Homo sapiens: one gene and its partners. The protein of the gene in region 1 purifies or fractionates together with the protein of each later gene. This does not show direct contact. Each region holds a gene or a part of one and is shown in the gene's direction. Other genes may lie near its edges.

Region 1 (3,500 bases):
GTTGACCTGAAGGAGCTCCAGCCCACTCCAGCCCCTTCCCACCCATCATGCCAGGCTATAACTCCACTGGAGCAGTAGGCGGACCAGCTGGAGGCCTTCTCAGCAGAGCAGAGAGCTCTCAAGGAGCAGACAGGGGGAGGTGTTGGCAAGGCAGCTGCAACAACAAGTTCACCCCGCTTTGGATTTTAAAAGGATCGAAATTCGAAATCCTCTTCTGGGGTTATGTGAGGTGCTGTGGGGTCTTTTTCCTTCCTCCTTTCTTTTTGGTAGGCAAGCAACATACCAAGTTCCTAGAAAAGGAGAAAAACACTGTGGCAGCCCAGAGGGCCATAGCTAAAGCGTGACTCACTCAGAGCCGATCCTACTGACACACGTCCCCTCCCTCCGTCCCACTCTGCCATTGCCCCCTCCTGTCAGGACCAGACTAGGGGGTCTGGGACTCCCGGGGAGCCATGCACCCCCCACTTGGGTGGTGGTGGCAGGGCAGGGGAGTGTTGCCAAACCTCAGGAGGACTTGGAGCTGCCCGTGCCACTTCCTGTGGAGAGACTCCAGTGCGCCTGCCGCTCAGCCCTGCAGAGCCTCAGCTGTGCCTGCCCGTGCCCTGGCAGAGGGTGGGAAAGTCCCACCAGCAGTGTTGAGTTGAAAGCTCAGCCACACTGGCATGTGCTCTCCGGGGCCTGTTGTCACACCATGGCACCTCTCCCCTACCGCCTCCAAGACAGAGTCTTTTCCTACCAGGTGTGCCAACCATCGGAGATGAGAGGACACCAGCTTCTACTATTTGCCAGGCATTGGGCTAAGTGCCCTCCATGAGATTATCTTATCTTGCTGAATCCTAACCCAGTTCTGGAGTTTGGTGCTGGGATTTCACTGTTGTACGCATGAGGAAATTGAGGTTTAGCAAGAGATTCACAGAGCAAGGAAGTGGCAGAGCCAGGACTAGGAACCTGGCTCCCAAACCCACCGTACTTTCTCCTGAGCTGTCCTCCTCTCAGCGTCTTGAGCCTCAGAGACCCACAGGATGCATTTGCAGCTTCCGCGGCCATCTCTGACCAGGGGAGAAAACCCACAGTGCCTCTGCTCTGTGGGAACCTTCTGGACAAGAGGCCCGAGCAGCCCCATATTCAGGGCAGCGGCACTGGAGCTTCAGAGCTAGAGCAGCCCACTCCTTGACGTGCAAGTGACCCTTTGCAGTGACCCTTCACCTGTGCGATCAGGCTCTAGCCGCCTGCGGGCCACCAGTCAGACTCCTATGGCAGCTGACAGGGCGGACCTGTATAGGCGCTGGAGTTGGCGTTTCCGTGGGGAATCCAGAGGACGGGCTGGCCTTTGTTTTGCATCGAGCCCTTTGCCAGCAGAATTCCCCGAGATCACCGAGGGCTCTCAGAGCCGCCTGGATGCGGCTCCCGGGGAAATCCGCCAGCAGCCACACATGCCCTCTGCCTCTGAGAGCTGATTGTAGGGAGAGGCAGCCCAAGGCCCCCATGGAGCTCTCCTTCCTGTTGTCCTCCCAGCTTCTCCCCCTAGCTTCTCCACCCAGCCAGCCGACACAGGAGCAGGGCAGTTGGGTAGAGAGGCATCCTTCCTCACTGCCTGCCCCAGTGGGCCAGGAAACCTTTCCCAGGCCTCTTAGACAGGGCCTGCCCACCCTCCCAGCCCCCAGTGTGGTGTAAGGTGTAAGGGTCCTCTCGGGGCACTTCCTTTTGTCCACATGTGAGTTTTCTCCAAAGGATCAGAGCCCAAAGCTGCCCTGCCCCACGCCTTTCAGAGGGAGGGTCTGTGATGTTCTAGCCAGGGCAGAGTCACAAGTACGAGGTAAGGGATGAGTCAGCTTTGATGGAACAGAAGGAAAAGTCATTCGGGGCCTGGGGCCCTGCCCAGGGACACATCTGGGCATGAGGCAGCTGTCAGTTGTGTGTGCAGCTCTGGGGCCCTGCAGACCTGGTCTTGGATCCTGCTCTTCTGCTCACCAGCTGCATGACCTTGGCCAAGTCCTTTCACTTCCCTGTGCCTTTGTTGTATCATCTGAAACAGGACCGTGAGAAAATCCCCCTCATTGGCCACTGTCAGTTTCTTCCTCTGCAGTGGTTGTGGGGCCAAGTGAGAACTGACATATTCCGTGGTTCGGAGGTGGCTCGGGGCCAGCCCTTGGGTCACCTTCCAAGGTGGAGTCACTCACCTCTGCTGGACTTCCTTTTCCTCATGTGTGAATGAGGAAATTGAACTAAATCTCAGGTCACTCCCAGTCTAGAATATTACGTGAGGCTGTTTTTGAGAAATCTCTGAAAGTTGTTCTAAGCCCTAAGCTGTACCCCGAGATTCAGCCCGGGCAGCAGGTCCAGGGATGGCCTGTGCAACACTCAGATACCTGGGAGAGAAGCCGATCCCTGCTGGGACAGCTCGGCTGGTGGCCAGAAAAGTCTGGGGCCTGATTCCTCTGCTCTGCTCCCTGGAGAGGGGGTCGGGGCAGCTGCTTCACCCTCTGACGAGAAGCCTACCTCCTACTGTTCAGGATTGGGTGTTGGCCCAGTGAGGTGTGTCCTGCCTGCGTGTCTTGTGCCTGTTGCTATAGACACTGAGGTTTGTTCACTCTGTCTCCCACTCCTAGGACACATCGGATAACCATCACCAACTTCTGCCTCGGGAAGCATCTGGTGAGCGAGGGGGACCTGCTGAAGGACCAGAGAGGGAGCCCTGCCTACATCAGTCCCGACGTGCTCAGCGGTACGTGTGTGTGCCAGACATTGGGCCTCTAAGCTCAATACAGCCAGGCTCTGTGACAGTCCACTCAGCAAATTTGTGGGCAGGCCCTGGGCAAGGTGCTGGGGCTTCACTGGGGGCCCAGACCAGTACTGTCCCTCCCCATACAAAATGTTTGGTCTGTTGGAGGTGGAAGACGTAATGATAACATGAATGCATGTTTAATTCCTCTGAGGTTAGTGCTAGGGAGGAACGGGATTGCTGTGAGAGTGGATGAAGGGTGCTTGGAGGACTTTCCCCACAAGGTGTGACAGTTGAGCTATGATCTTAAGGGAAACTAGGAATTCCCTGGGTATGTGTGACTAGGCTGAGGCTGAGGGTCCCAGAGGCAGCACAGCACGTTGGAGCAATTGCAGGCTGCTCAGAAAGTGAGCCTGGTTCAAGGGGAAGCCAGAGAGGTGCGCAGGGGCCAGATCAGGCAAGGCCTGACATAGGCCTCAGTAAGAGATGTCATCCTTTACTTCAAGTGCGAGTGGAAGCCATTGAACAGTTCTTAACTGAGTGTGCTGCTGTGAGTTTGTGTTTCAGAGCCCTCTCTCCTTGTCTGTGTTCATTCATTCTGTTACTGTTTGCTGAGGGCCACCCAGGCCCAAAGCTCTGTTCTAGACACTTTGGAGACAACAGGGAACAAAGTAGACAAACATTGCTGCCTTCATGGAGCTGACTTTCTAGTGGGGATGAGACAGATAATACACGAAACAAATAAGTAACTCACAGGCCGGGTGCAGTGGCTCATGCC
Region 2 (2,866 bases), on another chromosome or scaffold:
TTTCTTTTTTCCTAATCAGAGTTCTTGACCCTTTGGTTATTGAGTTTAAAACTTCAATTGAAATTCAATAGTATTTATTTTTGAAAAAAATCACTAAACTGTGCCTAAAGAACATAACTGCCATATTAATGTTTTGGTTTATATCCTCTATAGTAATAGAAAAACATTTAATACTTGTAATGCTGATGTGTTAATTTGATACCAGTTGAGTAGAATGTGATCAATCCAGTTTACAATCTATCATGAGTATTATTAACTAAAATCTATGTGCTTTTCAATAGGAATCATTCTTCTCTTGCTGTAACACTTGACCTTAACTTTTAGAAAGTGTTCATTTTTAAACTGCAACTGGAAAGGTTGAAAAGTTAGGACTCTTGTATTTGTGAACTGTAATCTGAAGCAGATTATTTAAAGTGTAGAAAAAGAAACAAGTTCTTCTTTTTTGCAAAGGTCTGTGATACCATATTTCAGCTTTGTGTAAGTAATTTGAATATCCAAAGGGTTGTGATGATCAGTTCTGAATATGCAACTGTCCACTTAATAAGGACAAGTATTCCAGTATCTCTTATGACTGTAGTCATAAATGATGTTGGAATGTACATTTTGTGAAATAGTTGGTATCCCTTTACTATGATTAATTTTTGTTATTCCAGGAAATACTTGTGAAGCCAGCCAATTAATAAAGCACTTTAGCATCTGTTCAGGTAGTTTTGAAAACCCACTTTTCCCCTTCAGGATAAGAACTTCCAGGTTACCTAAAAATGCAATAAAAATCTTTATAGTCTAAGCTTCTTGGCATATAATTTTTCATCAGGGTTTTCTTTTATTAATTGAGCACAATACTGTTTTGATTTAATTTTTTTCCCTCAAACCACCCAGCTCCTTACATAGTTTTTAATTATATAGCTATATGAAAGAGGTGGCTAAGACATTTGCTGCACACACTTGAACTAATGTTGGGTCAGTAGCTTCGTGTTACTGCCCTGATCCCAGTGTAATTCAGGTGGAAAGGTATTTTTATCTCACAGGGATATGTAGCTATGTATTTTACTAATTGTGAAACACTGGAAATTAATGATGCAGACAACTTGGTGTGGTCTTTGAACAGCTCTCTGCAGTATTTTTTTTTTTCCTGTTACCATAAATTGTATTTAAGTGCTTGCTTTCCACTTAAGTTGTACTAATAGAACCGGTAACTCCCAGCCCTCCCTGTTTGACACTCCTTAGCTTAGATTGATGTAGTTGTTTTTGTTATCCCTATAATGTGACTTTTATTTTTAAGTCATTGTGTACTGCATTTGTTTGTCACTAGTTGGGCACGTGCCAATAATATTCTCTCCATTCCTTATCTGCCATCTCTGTTTTGCCTGATTTCTCTTCAACTGAATAATGGCTTTTTGCATGGAAAAAATAGTTTTTACTATTAGACGTGTAAAGGGAAGAGAGAGCTAATGTATTGGACTTTGTGAGCCTACAAGGAATATTTTGGATCCCTCCAATAAATAAGGGCTATGTACTATATGTACTATATAGAGTTATCATGTGGTGGAAGATACTTGCAAGTCATAGATTTATGGGCAGGAGGATTTGTTACTCCCTATATCTAGGCTGAATGTAAAATCCCTTATGTTGTATCAATGGGGGTAAAAACTATTTTTATTTGCCTATGATATACTTGGTTTCTAATAAAGTGCCCTAGGCTCTAGTGAGAACTGTCTACTTTGAATTGCCATTTACTCCCTTTCCTCCTTTGGCCGATATGCTCTTGGCTAGCTTTTTATAAGTTAATGTGTTTCCCCAAAAAGTTTCACTACTTTATATTCATTTGAGTGTGATCCTAAAACACCTGGATCAACAGTACATCTCATATGCAATCTGCATCAGCTCCTATTCTGTCTGGATGTCTAGAACTGTTGGAAGATTTTGACGTCTTAAGCCCTAGGTTTTGCTTTGGGAAATAAGGTTTGAAATATTGTTCATTGCATTAAGATTTGTGTGTGTGTGCTTTGTAAGCCCAGAACCAGGTTTTGGAAAATGCCTGTACTGTGAAAGCAAATTAGGACTCTTTCTGAGCCTCTTTCATTGTCAGAAATAGAATCACTTTCCATCAGCTTCCAGGAAATTGTGTATCTGGAGTCGAAGAGATTTGACATCAAGAATCCAGATTTTTAAATGTAATTGTTTTTTAAATGCTAATGTTTGTAAAGCACCTTCAGTTCTTCGGATGAAAGGTGCTATATTCCCTCAGTGTAAATTAATAAAAAGATTACAGGAAGTTTGTCAAAAAATTCAATGCATAGTCTGTAGTATGTCCTGACAAGAAGTTAGCATTTTATATAAGAAATTAAAAAATGCTTATTCCTCCACTTGGTTGCTTGACTGGTGAACAAAAGTGAAACCTTTTTTTTTTTGTTTTGCATTTGACTCTGAGCTAAGTGTTCCAACTCTTTAAAGGCAATGTTTATTGTTACAACCTCGATCCAGTGCCCAGAACTATGCTTCATGAGATCATCACAACTCTTTAAATTGTATATTTACAGTGTGTAGTGATGCTGACGAAATACACGGTAGTAAACCAAAAAGAAACATTTGGAAAGTCCCCTAGCATGATGCCAGACACACTAGATGCTTGGGGAAGGTTGGTTCTGCATTCCCCTCCTGTTTTCTATTTCCGTATCAATTTATTGGTGAATTTGTGCCCTCATGAGAGTAGGCTTATGCTGGCTTAGATCATTCAAATGTTTTCTTAATTCAAAAATGCATGACATTTATAGATTTGTGTTGTCAACAAAAATACTACATAAGTATATTCCACTCAATCCCTAGGCACCCACTATGCTCAGCAGCACTGTGCTTTTGTATATAA
Region 3 (2,861 bases), on another chromosome or scaffold:
TGACAAATGGTGTCTTCTTTGGGCTACTGTTACCCCATCCTTCTGGGGTCCTCAGGTAAGTCCTCCTGCCGTGGAACGGTCTGTTTATATGTGAGTGCCCTGCCTTCTTAGGGCTCTGAATCTCAGTTGAAATTGGGGCTATGTCACAAAGCATTAACCGGCTGTGTCTGTATTGTCTGTTTATATTACACACCAAATAGAAATTATTCTTTAAGAACCAAAAAAATGCTTTGAATTACGAATAGTGAATCCTGCAAGCAAAAATAGGTTCTTGATGGAATCCCAGCATTATGGCATGAAAACGGTTTTATCAGTACAAAGTGGCGCCCAACCCCTTTTGTCCTCCGTAAAGTATTCATTTAGATTTTCTCTTCACTTGGTGTGTTTGCCACCAAAAGAGATGATGTGAAGGGAGCACAGTTGCAGGGCCTCAGAGCGGGCATGGAGCACTCATCGGCAGCATCTAAATGCCACGGGCTCTTTTTTCCATTTCTGTTGGAATTTTCCTCGTTCTAGATTCCAGTGGGATTGTTCTGAATTGATGTAATATATTCAGGCCATTGCAACCCCTTCCCATTGCTCCATGAATTATGCAGTAGTTCTCGGTATGCGTTCCCAAATCCCCAGGACTACTTCTGATTCCAAGCCCACCCAGTGCGCTGTTGCGGAATCTTTCCCCGAATGTTCACTCAGGCATCCACACCCAGGAGTGATGCAGGTGACAAGAAATCTCCCTTTCTCACTGCACTGTCATCCCATAAGCCACTCGGGCCTCTTTTTCTCTTGACACCATGGCACTAGTTCAGCAGTGCAGAGAGAAGCCGTGAGGAGTTCCGGTGTGAAGAGAAAGAATCTGAAAATGGAATGCTCTTCCTCCCTCCCCTAAGTGGAAAATGTGAGGGGAACTTTTTAGAGTAAGTGGCAGTAGCTTGGCTGTTGTGACCGAAACAAACGCAGCCGTATAATAGTCTCTGTTTTAGATACCAGTCATGCAATTTCCATATCTCTGTTTGCCAAAGTGCTGTTTGAAATGTTAAATGCTAAAGGGTGACTCGGAAGCATAGAAACTAGAGGGAGGTCTGTGACTCCTCCATGGAGTTTCCTTCTTCTCTCTGGGCAGATGGCAGAGGGCAGGCCTGTGTGCCTAGTGCCTGGCCACTTCCCCACACCTGCCTTGGAGTGAATGTGCTAGATCTGAGAGCCCGCAAGTCTCTCCTGGTGGCTACCCCTGAGCGAGAGGGATGGTCCTCTACCTCCGGGCTTGCTGACTTTAAACCTTTATTGTTCTCCTGTTTAAAAAACACTTTCCAACCTTCTTGCTTTTCTTTTCTTTCTCTGTCTGTTCTGTCCAGAACCAAACTGTCTTGCTAACTGCCCCCTGGGGACTCTAGCCCTGCCCGCCTCACGCTGTAAGTGCTTCCTTCCTTGTTTCCCAACTGTCTGGAGAGGTCGTGTTGTGTAACTCGCAGTTGGCACCTGACGCTCATCACCTGAGGGAGTTCTGCCCGGTGGCGGTACCCTCGCTCACCCCAAGTTCCAGGAGGTTCGCCTAAACCCAGGAACAGATTGATAAGGCCAGAGACTCATCTGCTCTGCTAGAGGGTTGACCACTCAATGCAAAGAAGGGTTTTTAGGTTATAGAGATTCTGCTGAGATTTCTCCGCTTTTGTACATTTGCAGCCAATATGCTTTCAGAGAATTGAGTAGATACTGGCCAGGAGGGGACATCCTAGGCACAGGGGTCTTGCCTGAGGGGGTCTTTGGGCCCAGCCACCCAGGACTGGTCAACATTTTGGTTATACGTGCACTGGCATGTGCTGAAATGAGGTGTGACCCTAATGTGATAAGGCTTTTGTTTTTCATTTTTCAACAACCATACCACAAGGAATGAACCCAAATATATCTTGTCCTTCCAAGTGAGCACCGTGGGTGACAGAGTAAATGCTCAATAAATATTTGTTGAATGAATAAACAACAAAATCATCCCCACTCCAAATATCTTGAGACCTTCCCTCAGAATTGCTTTCAGAGTCTGAGTCAAAGCACATGAGAAAAGATATACTTTTTGATCAAGGATATAGTCATCCACCCACCTCATCCACTGGCCTTGACTCGAAGCCAGTAGTATCTGTTGTCAAATACAACAGATGTATCCCCATGAAAAGATGACAGGGAACACAGGGAGGGTCAATTCCCAGAAACGTGCTACAGGGGCAGCATCCCAGGACACCATGCCATGCAGCGACCACAGTGGCTTCTCGGGAAAGCGCAGCATCGTTTGCTTGTACATGCCGGTGTGTTACTAAGGAAAAGGTTGATTCCCTTGAATGCAGACTCACAGTGATTCTTCCTTCACAAGCAGAGGCTGGCAAAGAGGGGGTACTGAATGGTCTCATAAAAAGCCTGCTCTTCAGCACCAGCCAGGCGGAACGGGATACGGTGGTGTCAGATAAACCTATGACAGCAGCTTCACCAACACACAACACACACAGAACAGATACACAATACACAACACACACACTACTTCTATAACAAGGGGAGCGCAGACACAAAACACACAGATTTCCCAAACCGTGTGTCCCAGTCAAGCACTGTGGGCTGCAGTGAGATGAGGACACAGGAGCACCTTGGGTTAGTCTGCATCTTGGTGGCTGGTGGCGCTGGTGGAGTTTTAACTGGAGAGGTATTTCTGGTTGTCACGGTACTGTTAGCATAATGCTTTGGGAACAGAAGCTTCTCCCTGTGGCCGTATGAAGTTCCAGCCACAAAAGCAGCAGGGAGCATGAAGCATAGTCTCCAGGGCCACTGTTCCTTTTCTGCTGACCCCAGAGGGAGGCAGGGAAACCGCTCGCCCCATTGCT
Region 4 (3,500 bases), on another chromosome or scaffold:
TGTTGCCCAAGCTGGTCTTGAATCCCTGGGCTCAAACATCCTCCCACCTCAGCCTCCCCAAGTGCTAAGATTACAGGTGTGAGCCACCACACCTGGCCCGGAAAAGCTTTTTGAGCTGAGGTCTTGGGGGAGAGTGTTCTAGAAAGATGCAAAGGCCTAAGGCAATAGTCACCAACTTTTTGGCTCCAGGGACCGGTTTTGTGGAAGACAATTTTTCCACAGATGGAGGCAGGGAGGTGGTCTTGGGATAATTCAAGCACGTTAATCTTTATTATGTACTTTATATCTAATACGTTGTAACATAGAATGAAATAATTCTACAACTCATCATCATGGGGAACCAGTGGGAGCCCTGAGCTTGTTCCTGCAACTAGACGGTCCCAGCTGGGGGTGATGAGAGACAGTGACAGATCATCAGGCATTCGATTTTCATAAGGAGGGTGCAACCTAGATCCCTCACACGCCAGGTTCACAATAGGGTTCGCGCTCCTGTAAGAATCGAATGCCGCCGCTGATCTGACGGAAGCGGGGTTCGGGTGGTCCTGCAAGTGACGGGGAGCGGCTGTAAATACACTCACTGCAGCTCACCTGCTGTACGGTTCAGTTCCTGACAGGCCACGCCCCGGGGGTTAAGGACCCCCGGCCTAAGGACGGTCTATCATATAATTCACCTCGGCCGGGTACAGTGGCTCACGCCTGTAATCCCAGCACTTTGGGTGGCTGAGGCGGCCGGATCATGAAGTCAGGAGATCGAGACCATCCTGGCTAACACGGTGAAACCCCATCTCTACTAAAACCACAAAAAATTAGCCTGGTGTTGTGGCACACTCCTGTAATCCCAGCTACTCAGGAGGCTGAGGTGGGAGAATCACTTGAACCCGGGAGGCAGAGGTTGCAGTGAGCTGGGATTGCGCCACTGCACTACAGCCTGGGTGACAGAGCGAGACTCCATCTCAAAAAAAAAAAAAAAAGAATTCACCTCTCGAAGGGCACCTGGCAGAAGCTGGGCTCATAGGAGGTCTTCCGTGTGTGGGGGACTGCTGGTCCCTGGCTTCCCTGGGGCCCCATCCTCCTCCTCATAGAGTTGGGGACCCACTCCTCCTGTCCCCACAGAGGTGTGCTTGAAGGACCCCATGTCTGTGGCGGACAGCCTGTACAACCTCCAGCTCGTGCAGGATTTCTGTGCCTCTCGCCTTCCTCGTGGCTGCCCCCTGTCCCTTGAGGACTTGCTGTACGTCCCACCGCCACTCAAGGTAAGGCCATCCTGGGGCCTCCTGGGCCGAGGCGGGCATCTGGGGCCAGGGGTCCCGTCTGCTGACCCGGCCTCCCACCTCCAGGTCAACTTGGTGGTGATGCTGGCCGAGTTGTTCATGTGTTTTGAGGTGCTCAAGCCCGACTTTGTGCAAGTGAAGGACTTGCCCGATGGTCACGGTGAGGCCCTGGGGGCCTGGGGGCCGGGTCGGGGGCGGGTGGGAGAGCCAAACCCCCGCCTGACCCTCTTCTCTGTACTGCAGCTGCCTCCCCCCGGGGCACTGAGGCCTCCCCACCTCAGAACAACAGCGGCAGTAGGTACGCTCCCCACACTGGGCGAGTCTCTGGCATTGTGGGTGTGGGGCTCCATGTCTGCCTTGCTGAGCACTGGGACGCAGCTGGGTGATGCTGTTGTCTCCCCCCGGGGAGAGGCGGAGGAGGAGGTGGGGGTCCTGAGGCTGAAGTACGTCTCTCCGTACAGTTCTCCTGTCTTCACCTTCCGCCACCCGCTTCTGTCATCTGGTGGCCCCCAGTCCCCACTCCGAGGATCCACAGGTGAGGAGGGGGTAGGTGGCTTCTGTCACGGGGGACCCCCCCACTCACAGACTGCCCCAGTGGGCCTCATGTTGTCTCCTCGTGAGCCTTCCAATAGCCTCTCCATCAGATCCCCCTTGGGCATCCCAAAGTGACCCCCAGAATGGCCTCCCCAGTGGCCCCACAGTACCCCGTAGTGACAGTAAATGGCCCCGGGTATCTGTTTCTGGAAACCTCTGGTCTCACTAGACCACATAATGAGCCATCAGTGACTCACCCAATGACCTTGCAGAGGTTGTCCCCAGATGCTGGCTGACCCCACTCAGGGTTCCCAGGGTCCCCATAGTGACCACTCATCGCCTCCCCCAGGCTCCCTGAAGTCTTCCCCGTCCATGTCCCATATGGAGGCCCTGGGCAAGGCCTGGAACCGGCAGCTCAGGTGAGTAGACCTCACAGGCCAGGGTAGGGGGTGGAGCAGGCTAGGGCGGGTTGGGGCCGAGGCTGGTCCCAGGGGCTGACCCCTCCCTCCGGCCGCCCAGCCGTCCCCTCTCCCAGGCTGTGTCATTCAGCACCCCCTTTGGCCTGGACAGCGACGTGGATGTCGTCATGGGAGACCCTGTGCTCCTCCGCTCTGTGAGCTCGGACAGCCTGGGCCCCCCGCGTCCCGCGCCGGCCAGGACCCCCACCCAGCCACCCCCGGAGCCTGGTGACCTGCCCACCATCGAGGAAGCTCTGCAGATCATCCACAGTGCCGAGCCCCGGCTCCTCCCAGATGGGGCGGCCGACGGCAGCTTCTACCTCCACTCCCCTGAGGGGCCCTCCAAGCCATCCCTGGCCTCCCCCTACCTGCCCGAGGGGACCTCCAAACCACTGTCCGACAGGCCCACCAAAGCACCAGTGTACATGCCACACCCCGAGACCCCCTCGAAACCATCTCCCTGTCTGGTGGGGGAGGCATCGAAACCGCCAGCCCCATCCGAGGGGTCCCCGAAGGCGGTGGCTTCGTCCCCAGCAGCCACCAACTCCGAGGTGAAAATGACCAGCTTTGCAGAACGCAAGAAACAGCTGGTGAAGGCAGAGGCTGAGGCCGGAGCGGGGTCCCCCACGTCCACTCCGGCCCCGCCGGAGGCCCTGAGCTCGGAGATGAGTGAGCTCAGCGCCCGGCTGGAGGAGAAACGCAGAGCCATCGAGGCTCAGAAGCGACGGATTGAGGCCATATTCGCCAAGCACCGCCAGCGGCTGGGCAAAAGCGCCTTCCTGCAGGTGCAGCCGCGGGAAGCCTCTGGGGAGGCGGAAGCAGAGGCGGAGGAGGCCGATTCCGGTCCAGTCCCTGGTGGGGAGCGGCCCGCAGGCGAGGGCCAGGGTGAGCCAACCTCACGGCCCAAGGCAGTGACCTTCTCGCCAGACCTGGGCCCGGTGCCCCACGAGGGGCTGGGGGAATACAATCGAGCGGTCAGCAAGCTGAGTGCCGCCTTGAGCTCGCTGCAGCGGGACATGCAGAGGCTCACGGACCAGCAGCAGCGGCTCCTGGCCCCGCCCGAGGCCCCCGGATCCGCCCCACCACCTGCTGCGTGGGTCATCCCTGGCCCCACGACGGGGCCCAAAGCTGCATCCCCCAGCCCCGCCCGGCGAGTCCCGGCCACCCGGCGCAGCCCTGGGCCCGGGCCCAGCCAGTCACCCCGCAGCCCGAAACACACGCGGCCAGCGGAGCTGCG
Region 5 (3,500 bases), on another chromosome or scaffold:
GGGAGGGAGACATGCAGTATTAAAGCCCTTTTTAAAAATCTGAAACTTTTTTACCAATACAAAAATTATTTTTATTTTTTATTTATTCATTTTTTTTGAGACGGAATCTTGCTCTTTTGCCCAGGCTGGAGTGCAGTGGCGTGATCTCACCTCACTGCAACCTCCACCTCCCAGGTCCAAGCGATTCTCTTGCCTCAGCCTCCCGAGTAGCTGGGATTACAGGCACCTATCACCACGCTGGGCTGATTTTTGTATTTTTAGTAGAGACGGGGTTTCTCCATGTTGGTAGGCTGATCTCGAACTCACGACCTGAGGAGATCCACCTGCCTTGGCCTCCCAAAGTGCTGGGATTACAGGCGTGAGCCACCGCGCCTGGCCACAAAAATTTATTTTTATTACTTATTTCCACTATCACATGAGCTAGATCATATAACAACATTGAAAATCCACTGGCTAAAGACCAAAGACAGACTAATGGCTCAGCTAGATAATAGCAAATGATATGTTGGACTTAAGTTGTTTGATTTTTTTTTTTTTTTTTTTTTTTTTTTTTTTTTTGAGGCAGAGTCTCGCTGTGTCCCCCAGGCTGGAGTGCAATGGCAGGATCTCGGCTCACTGCAACCTCTACCTCCCTGCAACCTCTACCTACCTGGTTCAAGCGATTATCCAGCCTTACCCTCCTGAGTAGCTGGGACTACAGGCATGCGCCACCACGCCTGGCTACTTTTTGTATTTTTAGTAGAGACGGGGTTTCACCATATTGGCCAGGCTGGTCTTGAACTCCTGACTTCGTGATCTGCCTGCCTCGGCTTCCCAAAGTGTTGGGATTACAGGCGTGAGCCACCGTGTCCGGCCTTGAGATATTTTTTTAATTCAAAAGTTTATTCACAAACTTCAACTTTTAAGTGTTTTATTACAGATAGACTGGTAAGCTACAGAATTTTTAGGACTTTTTTTTTGGGGGGGCGGGCTAGGAGGGCTGATTTCTGAGAAGCAGAGAAAAACTTGTAGACAGGAGAAGCCGTTTCTGTTACAGTAAAATAAAGCTATTATACTATTAGTATCCTTCATGATATTAAGCAGATACAAGACCCGTTCTTATTTATTAAAAGAACTGAGGGATATAGTAAGTATCAGTTTTTATTAAAGCTGTCTTTCTCCTATTGGACAATGAGTTGCGTTTACTGAGGGCCAGAATCCTTTTGCTCATATCAGGTTTGCTCCTGCCTAGCATATAGTAGTTGCTCAATATATGTTTATATATTAAACGAATAAATTGGTGGCTTTATTCTTTCTGCCTAAAATATTGTCTGGTCTTATTTGTTAGGAATTCTGACCACCTGATTTTCCATAATGCCTCATATCTGGTATTCTGGGTACTCTGCAATTAGGCCATTAAGAAACTGAAAGAACCAAGTTGCATTTTTTTTTTTCCAGGCTGGCTAGGGAACCATCTACTGGAGTTGAGGCTATTTTTTCCTGCCCTTTTATAGGATATTTTTTAAAGTATGAAATATTTTAAGTGTACAGAGATCAATATAATGAACCTTCATATACATACCACCCAGCTCTATAAGATTCTAGTAATCTGCCATGTTTGTTATTTTAAAATAAATAACACATTAAAACGCAGATAAATGATTCTGGTCTCTTTCCTTAATCTCCGGGTAATCATTATGAATTTGGTATTTGTCTCATTTTTTTTTCCTTTTTTTTTTTTTTTTAGTTTTGCAATATACATATGTACTTACCAAAAAAAACTATTTTGCATGCATATAACTACTTATCTGTTCTCCTATTTTATGAAGTTGAGGTTGTTTCTAATTTTCTTTACCAAAAAAAAATGAGCATTTCTCTAGGGAGTTTACTGTGAAGAAAAATGGCCGGGTCATAGAGTACGCTATTTATTTATTCATTTATATGTTTATGCCAAATTGCTCTGAAGTTTTTACTAATTTAAACTCCAACCACTATTGTGTGAAAGTTTGTTTTTCTACACTCCTCAGACTTGACATTAACAGAGATGCATGTTTTTTCAATCTGAAATGTTCTCTTAAGGTAATCTTTTCCTATCAGTCACATTAAATACCTTTTCATAGGTATTATTCATTGTTCAAGTTTACTCTTATAAGTTGAAGAACATTATTTGCATATTTGTGCTGTTAGATTTTTGTTCATTGGATATTGATAGGCATAGTTAATAAGTAAACATGCTTTTTAACAAACTAACACATTGCAGGCTTCTTCTATATTCTTTTAGATATTTAGATAGATGTTACTAACGTTTTACCCCTCACAAAACTCAAGTTCTATAAAAATATTATGAACCTTCCCATACTTGTTGGCATTTCAGAAATGGTACAACCTAATGAGCCTGTTACCAAGAATCTAGTGTAGTGAAATCTGGAGCCCGGGCCAACGTGTGTGAATTGCTGATAACATTTTTGTAAGCTATTTTTGATTAAGGGTAATTTGTCACTTAATGACCATAATTAAGTTTAATGTACCAGTAGTAGTTTATTGCTAAATGCCTACTTTGTGTCATACTACAAATTTGAAGAAAAGAGTATTTCCTGCAATGGTGACTCTCTTCTTTTTCTCATCCCCCCAGGTTGTATCAGAGTAAGATGGACGGTAGCTTTGATTGTGATTGTGGTGAGCTGGAGCCACCTGATCACTAACAAAAGACATCTTCTGTTAACCAACAGCCGCCAGGGCTTCCTGTTGAAATAAATATATAGCAACAAAGGAAAAAAAGAAGCAAAACGGAAATAGTGCTTACCAGCACCTTAGAATGATGCTGCTCAGGACCAGTCCAACACTGAATGTATCTGCACTGTGAGGAGAATGTTCATAGAAGCCTGTTGTGTGCATATTTATTCACATTTTTGTTAAATGTTAAATCGTTTAGCACGGTAATCTGAGTGCACAGTATGTCATTTCATTCCGTTTGAGTTTCTTGTTTTCGTTAAATGTCTGCAGAGTTGCTGCCCCTTTCTTGAACTATGAGTACTGCAATCTTTTTAATTCTCAATATGAATAGAGCTTTTTGAGCTTTAAATCTAAGGGGAACTCGACAGGCCTGTTTGGCATATGCAATGAACATCAAGAAACCATCTTGCTGTGGAAGCATAATTATTTTTCTTCTCCCTTTTTGAAAGATCTTTCCTTTTGATGCCAGTTTTCTTCCTTGTTTACACAAGTTCAATTTGAAAGGAAAAGGCAATAGTAAGGGTTTCAAAATGGCAGAGAAATTTGAAAGTCTCATGAACATTCATGGTTTTGATCTGGGTTCTAGGTATATGGACTTAAAACCATTGGGTTGTGGAGGCAATGGCTTGGTTTTTTCTGCTGTAGACAATGACTGTGACAAAAGAGTAGCCATCAAGAAAATTGTCCTTACTGATCCCCAGAGTGTCAAACATGCTCTACGTGAAATCAAAATTATTAGAAGACTTGACCATGATAACATTGTGAAAGTGTTTGAGATTCTTGGTCCC
Region 6 (3,500 bases), on another chromosome or scaffold:
CCCTAGAGGTTCAGTGTTCTGCATTGCGAGACTAGCCCTAGGTTTAGAAACCTAGTGACATAGGCTTGCTGTACAGAACAGTATGCAGTGTGTCAGCTGACACTGGTGTTGGTTTCACGATCCGAAGGAAATGGAATATAATTGCCGTCCTTGTCACACCTTGAGCATTATGGTAAGCAGGTGCTTTCTGGTGCAACTGTTTGTGGTTGAACAGTGTTTATGACTAATATCTGCCATCGTTTTTAAGAGTGTTTTTAAAGGAAAGGGCAACTCTTGTCTGGCCTATTTTTCTATCTTCCTATTAAAACCTGTGGTATGACGTGGACAGAATGTAACTCTAGATGTTTACAATTAACTGTTTTCATTGTAATCTGTTTCTTGCTACTCAAACTGTGTAACCGTGGGATTTCTTATGTAGGATATCTATAATATTTGTGCTGAGTCATTTTGAGTTAAGTGAATGGGGTAAAGTTCTATTTTTAGCCCGTCAAGGCCTAGTGAGGGCACTGGCTTAGCAGAACTCTCCATCACGCGCATCTGTTTGGGTTATGCCCACCAATAAGGACTTGATTCCAGTTTAAATAGGACTTTGGTCACTGAATAAATCTAAAGTTTCTGAGAAATACATTGACTTTTTTTGTCCACTGTAAAAAAATTTTTTTTTCTTCCTGTGAGAAATTGAGACTCTTAAAAGTTAAAGTCTACTAATGAAAGATTATTTGCTTGTGCCTGTTTTCTACATTCATTTTTCTTTAAAGGTTGACTCTTATTTTTACCCTCCCAAATCCAGACTCTTCTATGTACTCTCCTTAAATTTTAAACTCCCAAGCTTTGTATAGAAGTCGATAATCTGGTCCAGATGCTGAAAAGAAGACAAAGCTTTCACATTTGCAATATTGGCTTCATTTTCTGGACTTCTGTTGTTTTAATCATGAGTGTTCATGTTTCTTTAAAACAGAAAAAAAAAAAATCACCTTGTTTTCTTCAGGGTGTGAGCTCCTAGAGAACTAAGATGAGGTTTTGTGATTTTCCTTTGTTTTAAGTCTGGTATAAGATCTCGCTCACATAAATATTTAATACTCTTTTTGATGGTGACTGACTTTTGGTCGTATGATGGACATTTAGGCCCTTAAATCTGCCCCATGAGCAAGATGACACACCTTTGGAAAAACAGAAGCTATTCTGGGAGGTACATGAATATGTTCACATTTTATCACTAAGTTTCATTTAATATGCCTTATTAGTAATAAGCATGTATACCAATTTGTATCTACAAACCTATAATTTTTAAACTGTAGTATTCACGTAAATATTGGTAAGATATTTATTTTGGAATGTGGATGATTTGTAAAACCTGTGTATTAAAACAAAAGTATACAAATACCTGATTTGTACATACCTGGCTGTAACCTAATGTGTCTTTTTGTTGTCATGCAGAGCTCTGGTATCGAGACTTTAGTGGAGGAGCTCTGCTCCAGACTGAAAGACCTTCAGAGTAAGCAAGGTGAGGTCAAAAGCACTGTGCGCACACATGCCAGGATTACATCCCTGAGGAATCTGGATTGGGGAAAATCTTAGAATTGATCAGAAAAGAAAACAACCAGAACAAAGTCTTTGTGTCCAGTGTGTGTCACTAGGCCAGCCTCATGCTCCATCTGCAGCTCTGTTAGTGGCTTCTGTGTCAGACCCAGCAGTCACTCATAGAGATTCCTGCAACCAAGGGAGGGACTTAGTCCACAGGTGCCCTCAGAGATAGGAAACACTTCATGGTTTTCTGTTTTTTGGGTTTTTTTAATTGTTGTTGGCTTCAAGTTGAAGCTCAGAGATCAGGAACAATATTGTCTCTTTCCTTTCCCCATCCTTGCCCCTCTGTTAATATCTGCCTGTTGATGTTAAGACTGCTAAATTACGACATTAAATTAAGATGTTAAGACATGAATTACTTCAGGTTTGGAAGGGACTTCTGTTTTGACTCAGCTTTTTTGAAAACACAGACTTGGCAAGCTTATTTAGTTATTTCGATATATGAATCCTCCTCATACTTTTTCTAACTTGTTTGCAATCCCTAAGAACGAGACCTTCATATTAAGGGTGAGGATCCTTGTTTCCTTGCCCTCTTTATGGTCATTTTGCTGCCCACCAAGCCTTGAGCCTGCCTCTTAAGGGCACAGTTGATTTGTAACCTAAGGCAGTATCCTAGGCTAAACTAAGGGATAGCCCTTTTTCCTGTTTCAGTTGAAATAGCCCTTGCTCACCTACATGTTAAGTAATAGAGCAAATTGTAATAAAGAATATTCTTTACAGATTAGTTTTGGTCAAGATGAGTCAATGTAAAGTCTATGAGTGTAGAATTTTGTGAGAAAATAGTTTTGGAATCTAAACAGATGTTCTGTCCTTCTGGTCTAATTAATAAGTACACAGGGGACTTCAGTCTCTTAATTAAGTGCCTCTAGAGCACTGTATCAGTGACGAGATGAACAACTCTCACCTCTTGGCCTAATGCTAATGTGGTTTAATCGGAGAATTCCCTCTGGCACACTGAAAAAATAGATTTTTATTAAAAAGATCGGTATTGAGTTTGCCTTTTAAGCACCAAAGTCTCTATTTCTTGTTAAAATTAGTTGAGAAACTTTGAAATACATTAGCATTTATTAACTAGATATAAGACAAATCTTTCTTAATTTTTGTTTCATAACAGAAGAGAAGATTCACAAAAAGTTAGAGGGGTCTCCCTCTCCAGAGGCAGAATTATCCCCTCCAGCAAAGGATCAAGTGGAAATGTATGTAAGATTGTATTCGGTAATAAAGTGTGCATTTGTTAAAATCAGATGAATAACTGCTACATGGTTTCCGTTTTCTGTTTGTCATCTTGTTTAGTTTCATTATATATAATGTAAGAAACATTTATCGAGCGCTTATATGCTTGACACTGAGAATTCAAAGGTGAAACAAGATGGTTCTGTCCTTGGTGTTCATATTCAATATTTGTGGAACAAATGAGTGAAACATAGAAGGTTATTATTTGCTAAGTCTATGTATGTACTATTACCTTTAATATTCACAACAGCCCTTTGAGACAGCTGTGAGAAATTAGGATTATCAGCCGGGCACAGTGGCTCATGTCAGTAATCCCAGCACTTTGGGAAGCCAAGGCAGGTGGATCACCTGAGGTCAGGAGTTTGAGACCAGCCTGGTCAACATGGTGAAACCCAGTCTCAAATATTAGTTGAGCATGGTGGTACATGCCTGTAATCCCAGCTACTCAGGAGACCGAGGCAGGAGAATTTCTGGAACCCGGGAGGCAGAGGTTGCAGTGAGCTGAGACTGTGCCATTGCACTCCAGCCTGGACGACAGAGCGAGACTCTGTCTTATTAAAAAAAAAAAAAAAAAAAAAAACAAGAAAGAAAAGAAATGATTATCCATGTTCACAAGCAAGAACACTGAGTTCCCACTGTTTACTGCAGAGGGAACATAGGCAATCCTTGACCTGCCAAACCTG
Region 7 (2,837 bases), on another chromosome or scaffold:
GGGCCTGGGCACAGGAGGGAGAGCTGCAGAGTGTCCTGCCTGCCTTGGCTGGAGGGACACCTCTCCTGGGTGTGGAGACAGCTTGGTTCCCTTTCCCTAGCTCCCTGGTGGGTGAATGCCACCTCCTGAGATCCTCACCTCTTGGAATTAAAATTGTTGGTCACTGGGGAAAGCCTGAGTTTGCAACCAGTTGTAGGGTTTCTGTTGTGTTTTTTTTTTTTTTTTTGAAATAAAACTATAATATAAATTCTCCTATTAAATAAAATTATTTTAAGTTTTAGTGTCAAAAGTGAGATGCTGAGAGTAGGTGATAATGTATATTTTACAGAGTGGGGGTTGGCAGGATGGTGACATTGAACATGATTGCTCTCTGTCTCTTTTTTCAGCTTATGGGTATTTATCTTCTATTAGTATTTGTATCTTCAGTTCATTCCACTTTAGGAAACAGAGCTGCCAATTGAAACAGAAGAAGAAAAAAAAAAAAAGCAGCAGACAACACACTGTAGAGTCTTGCACACACACAAGTGCCCAGGCAAGGTGCTTGGCAGAACCGCAGAGTGGGAAGAGAGTACCGGCATCGGGTTTCCTTGGGATCAATTTCATTACCGTGTACCTTTCCCATTGTGGTCATGCCATTTGGCAGGGGGAGAATGGGAGGCTTGGCCTTCTTTGTGAGGCAGTGTGAGCAGAAGCTGATGCCAGCATGTCACTGGTTTTGAAGGGATGAGCCCAGACTTGATGTTTTGGGATTGTCCTTATTTTAACCTCAAGGTCTCGCATGGTGGGGCCCCTGACCAACCTACACAAGTTCCCTCCCACAAGTGGACATCAGTGTCTTCTCTGTGAGGCATCTGGCCATTCGCACTCCCTGGTGTGGTCAGCCTCTCTCACACAAGGAGGAACTTGGGTGAAGGCTGAGTGTGAGGCACCTGAAGTTTCCCTGCGGAGTCGATAAATTAGCAGAACCACATCCCCATCTGTTAGGCCTTGGTGAGGAGGCCCTGGGCAAAGAAGGGTCTTTCGCAAAGCGATGTCAGAGGGCGGTTTTGAGCTTTCTATAAGCTATAGCTTTGTTTATTTCACCCGTTCACTTACTGTATAATTTAAAATCATTTATGTAGCTGAGACACTTCTGTATTTCAATCATATCATGAACATTTTATTTTGCTAAATCTTGTGTCATGTGTAGGCTGTAATATGTGTACATTGTGTTTAAGAGAAAAATGAAACCCACATGCCGCCATTTTCCTGAATCAAATTCTGCAGTGGAATGGAGAGGAAAATACTTCTAGGCAAGCAGCTAGACTGGTGAATTGGGGGAAATAGAAGGAACTAGTAACTGAGACTCCTCCAGCCTCCTCCCTATTGGAATCCCAATGGCTCCTGGAGTAGGAAAAAAGTTTAAACTACATTCATGTTCTTGTTCTGTGTCACTCGGCCCTGGGTAGTCTACCATTTACTTCACCCCAAGTCCTGCTGCCCATCCAGTTGGGAAGCCATGATTTTCCTAAGAATCCAGGGCCATGGGAGATACAATTCCAAGTTCTCGCTTCCTCCTTTGGGCATCTCTTCTGCCTCCCAATCAAGGAAGCTCCATGCTCAGGCTCTCAGCTCTCGGGCCAGTGCTCTGCTCTGTCCAGGGTAGGTAATACTGGGAGACTCCTGTCTTTTACCCTCCCCTCGTTCCAGACCTGCCTCATGGTGGCAACATGGTTCTTGAACAATTAAAGAAACAAATGACTTTTTGGAATAGCCCTGTCTAGGGCAAACTGTGGCCCCCAGGAGACACTACCCTTCCATGCCCCAGACCTCTGTCTTGCATGTGACAATTGACAATCTGGACTACCCCAAGATGGCACCCAAGTGTTTGGCTTCTGGCTACCTAAGGTTAACATGTCACTAGAGTATTTTTATGAGAGACAAACATTATAAAAATCTGATGGCAAAAGCAAAACAAAATGGAAAGTAGGGGAGGTGGATGTGACAACAACTTCCAAATTGGCTCTTTGGAGGCGAGAGGAAGGGGAGAACTTGGAGAATAGTTTTTGCTTTGGGGGTAGAGGCTTCTTAGATTCTCCCAGCATCCGCCTTTCCCTTTAGCCAGTCTGCTGTCCTGAAACCCAGAAGTGATGGAGAGAAACCAACAAGAGATCTCGAACCCTGTCTAGAAGGAATGTATTTGTTGCTAAATTTCGTAGCACTGTTTACAGTTTTCCTCCATGTTATTTATGAATTTTATATTCCGTGAATGTATATTGTCTTGTAATGTTGCATAATGTTCACTTTTTATAGTGTGTCCTTTATTCTAAACAGTAAAGTGGTTTTATTTCTATCACACATCTGCTGTCTCTTGCCTTGTTGTGTTCTGACGCCACGGGGAGTTATGTATACACCAGCAGGCCTTGAAAGTCTATCCCCAGCTCCAGGCCTGGACACATCCCTCCCTCCATGCACCGCTATGGCCTGGCCCCACCCTGCTCCAGTCCTTTTCCCTTGCAGAAGGAATCTTAGGAGAGGTGCCCTGCCTTGACTTTGCTCCCTGATTCTATTGCTAGAGTCCTCCCTAGTTCTGCTGAATCTGGATGTATTAATATATCTGTACCTAATCACCTATTGGTGGTACAAGTACCCCCAGACTGGAGTCCTTACTCAGCCCTCCTTGTTTTCTTCCTAAGAATCCCAACCTGGTGGAGGTGGGGAGGGGCGGCCTGCAAACAGCAGTCCTTGATGTCAACTGCCTGCTTGAAATTCCAAGTATGGCTTGGCCTAGTTGGGAACACCAGGAACTCATGAGGTCTCACGACAGCTGGTGACCTTTTCCCAGAGCTTATAACAAC

What was found.
Region 2: the proteins of STK40 (region 1) and PPP6C purify together in Homo sapiens (affinity purification with mass spectrometry, with the first as the bait; one large-scale study listed by BioGRID). This does not show direct contact.
Region 3: the proteins of STK40 (region 1) and MTCL1 purify together in Homo sapiens (affinity purification with mass spectrometry, with the first as the bait; one large-scale study listed by BioGRID). This does not show direct contact.
Region 4: the proteins of STK40 (region 1) and CAMSAP3 purify together in Homo sapiens (affinity purification with mass spectrometry, with the first as the bait; one large-scale study listed by BioGRID). This does not show direct contact.
Region 5: the proteins of STK40 (region 1) and MAPK6 purify together in Homo sapiens (affinity purification with mass spectrometry, with the first as the bait; one large-scale study listed by BioGRID). This does not show direct contact.
Region 6: the proteins of STK40 (region 1) and KIAA0232 purify together in Homo sapiens (affinity purification with mass spectrometry, with the first as the bait; one large-scale study listed by BioGRID). This does not show direct contact.
Region 7: the proteins of STK40 (region 1) and TIMP3 purify together in Homo sapiens (affinity purification with mass spectrometry; one large-scale study listed by BioGRID and IntAct). This does not show direct contact.

What each region holds. Positions count from the first base shown.
Region 1 is NC_000001.11:36,347,925-36,351,424, reverse strand, and holds part of STK40 (serine/threonine-protein kinase 40), read left to right. Parts: intron 1-2,609; coding exon 2,610-2,725; intron 2,726-3,500. UniProt on the Homo sapiens protein: May be a negative regulator of NF-kappa-B and p53-mediated gene transcription.
Region 2 is NC_000009.12:125,146,073-125,148,938, reverse strand, and holds the end of PPP6C (serine/threonine-protein phosphatase 6 catalytic subunit), read left to right. Parts: 3' UTR 1-2,366; downstream 2,367-2,866.
Region 3 is NC_000018.10:8,827,556-8,830,416, forward strand, and holds part of MTCL1 (microtubule cross-linking factor 1), read left to right. Parts: coding exon of another isoform or gene 1-55; intron 56-1,352; coding exon of another isoform or gene 1,353-1,391; exon of another isoform or gene 1,392-1,410; intron 1,411-2,861. UniProt on the Homo sapiens protein: Microtubule-associated factor involved in the late phase of epithelial polarization and microtubule dynamics regulation.
Region 4 is NC_000019.10:7,609,363-7,612,862, forward strand, and holds part of CAMSAP3 (calmodulin-regulated spectrin-associated protein 3), read left to right. Parts: intron 1-1,113; coding exon 1,114-1,253; intron 1,254-1,337; coding exon 1,338-1,431; intron 1,432-1,514; coding exon 1,515-1,569; intron 1,570-1,732; coding exon 1,733-1,806; intron 1,807-2,154; coding exon 2,155-2,224; intron 2,225-2,324; coding exon 2,325-3,500. UniProt on the Homo sapiens protein: Key microtubule-organizing protein that specifically binds the minus-end of non-centrosomal microtubules and regulates their dynamics and organization.
Region 5 is NC_000015.10:52,043,219-52,046,718, forward strand, and holds part of MAPK6 (mitogen-activated protein kinase 6), read left to right. Parts: intron 1-559; exon of another isoform or gene 560-2,446; intron 2,447-2,611; 5' UTR 2,612-3,242; coding exon 3,243-3,500. UniProt on the Homo sapiens protein: Atypical MAPK protein. Phosphorylates microtubule-associated protein 2 (MAP2) and MAPKAPK5.
Region 6 is NC_000004.12:6,855,727-6,859,226, forward strand, and holds part of KIAA0232 (uncharacterized protein KIAA0232), read left to right. Parts: intron 1-74; exon of another isoform or gene 75-130; coding exon of another isoform or gene 131-172; intron 173-1,437; coding exon 1,438-1,504; intron 1,505-2,698; coding exon 2,699-2,780; intron 2,781-3,500.
Region 7 is NC_000022.11:32,860,705-32,863,541, forward strand, and holds the end of TIMP3 (metalloproteinase inhibitor 3 precursor), read left to right. Parts: 3' UTR 1-2,337; downstream 2,338-2,837.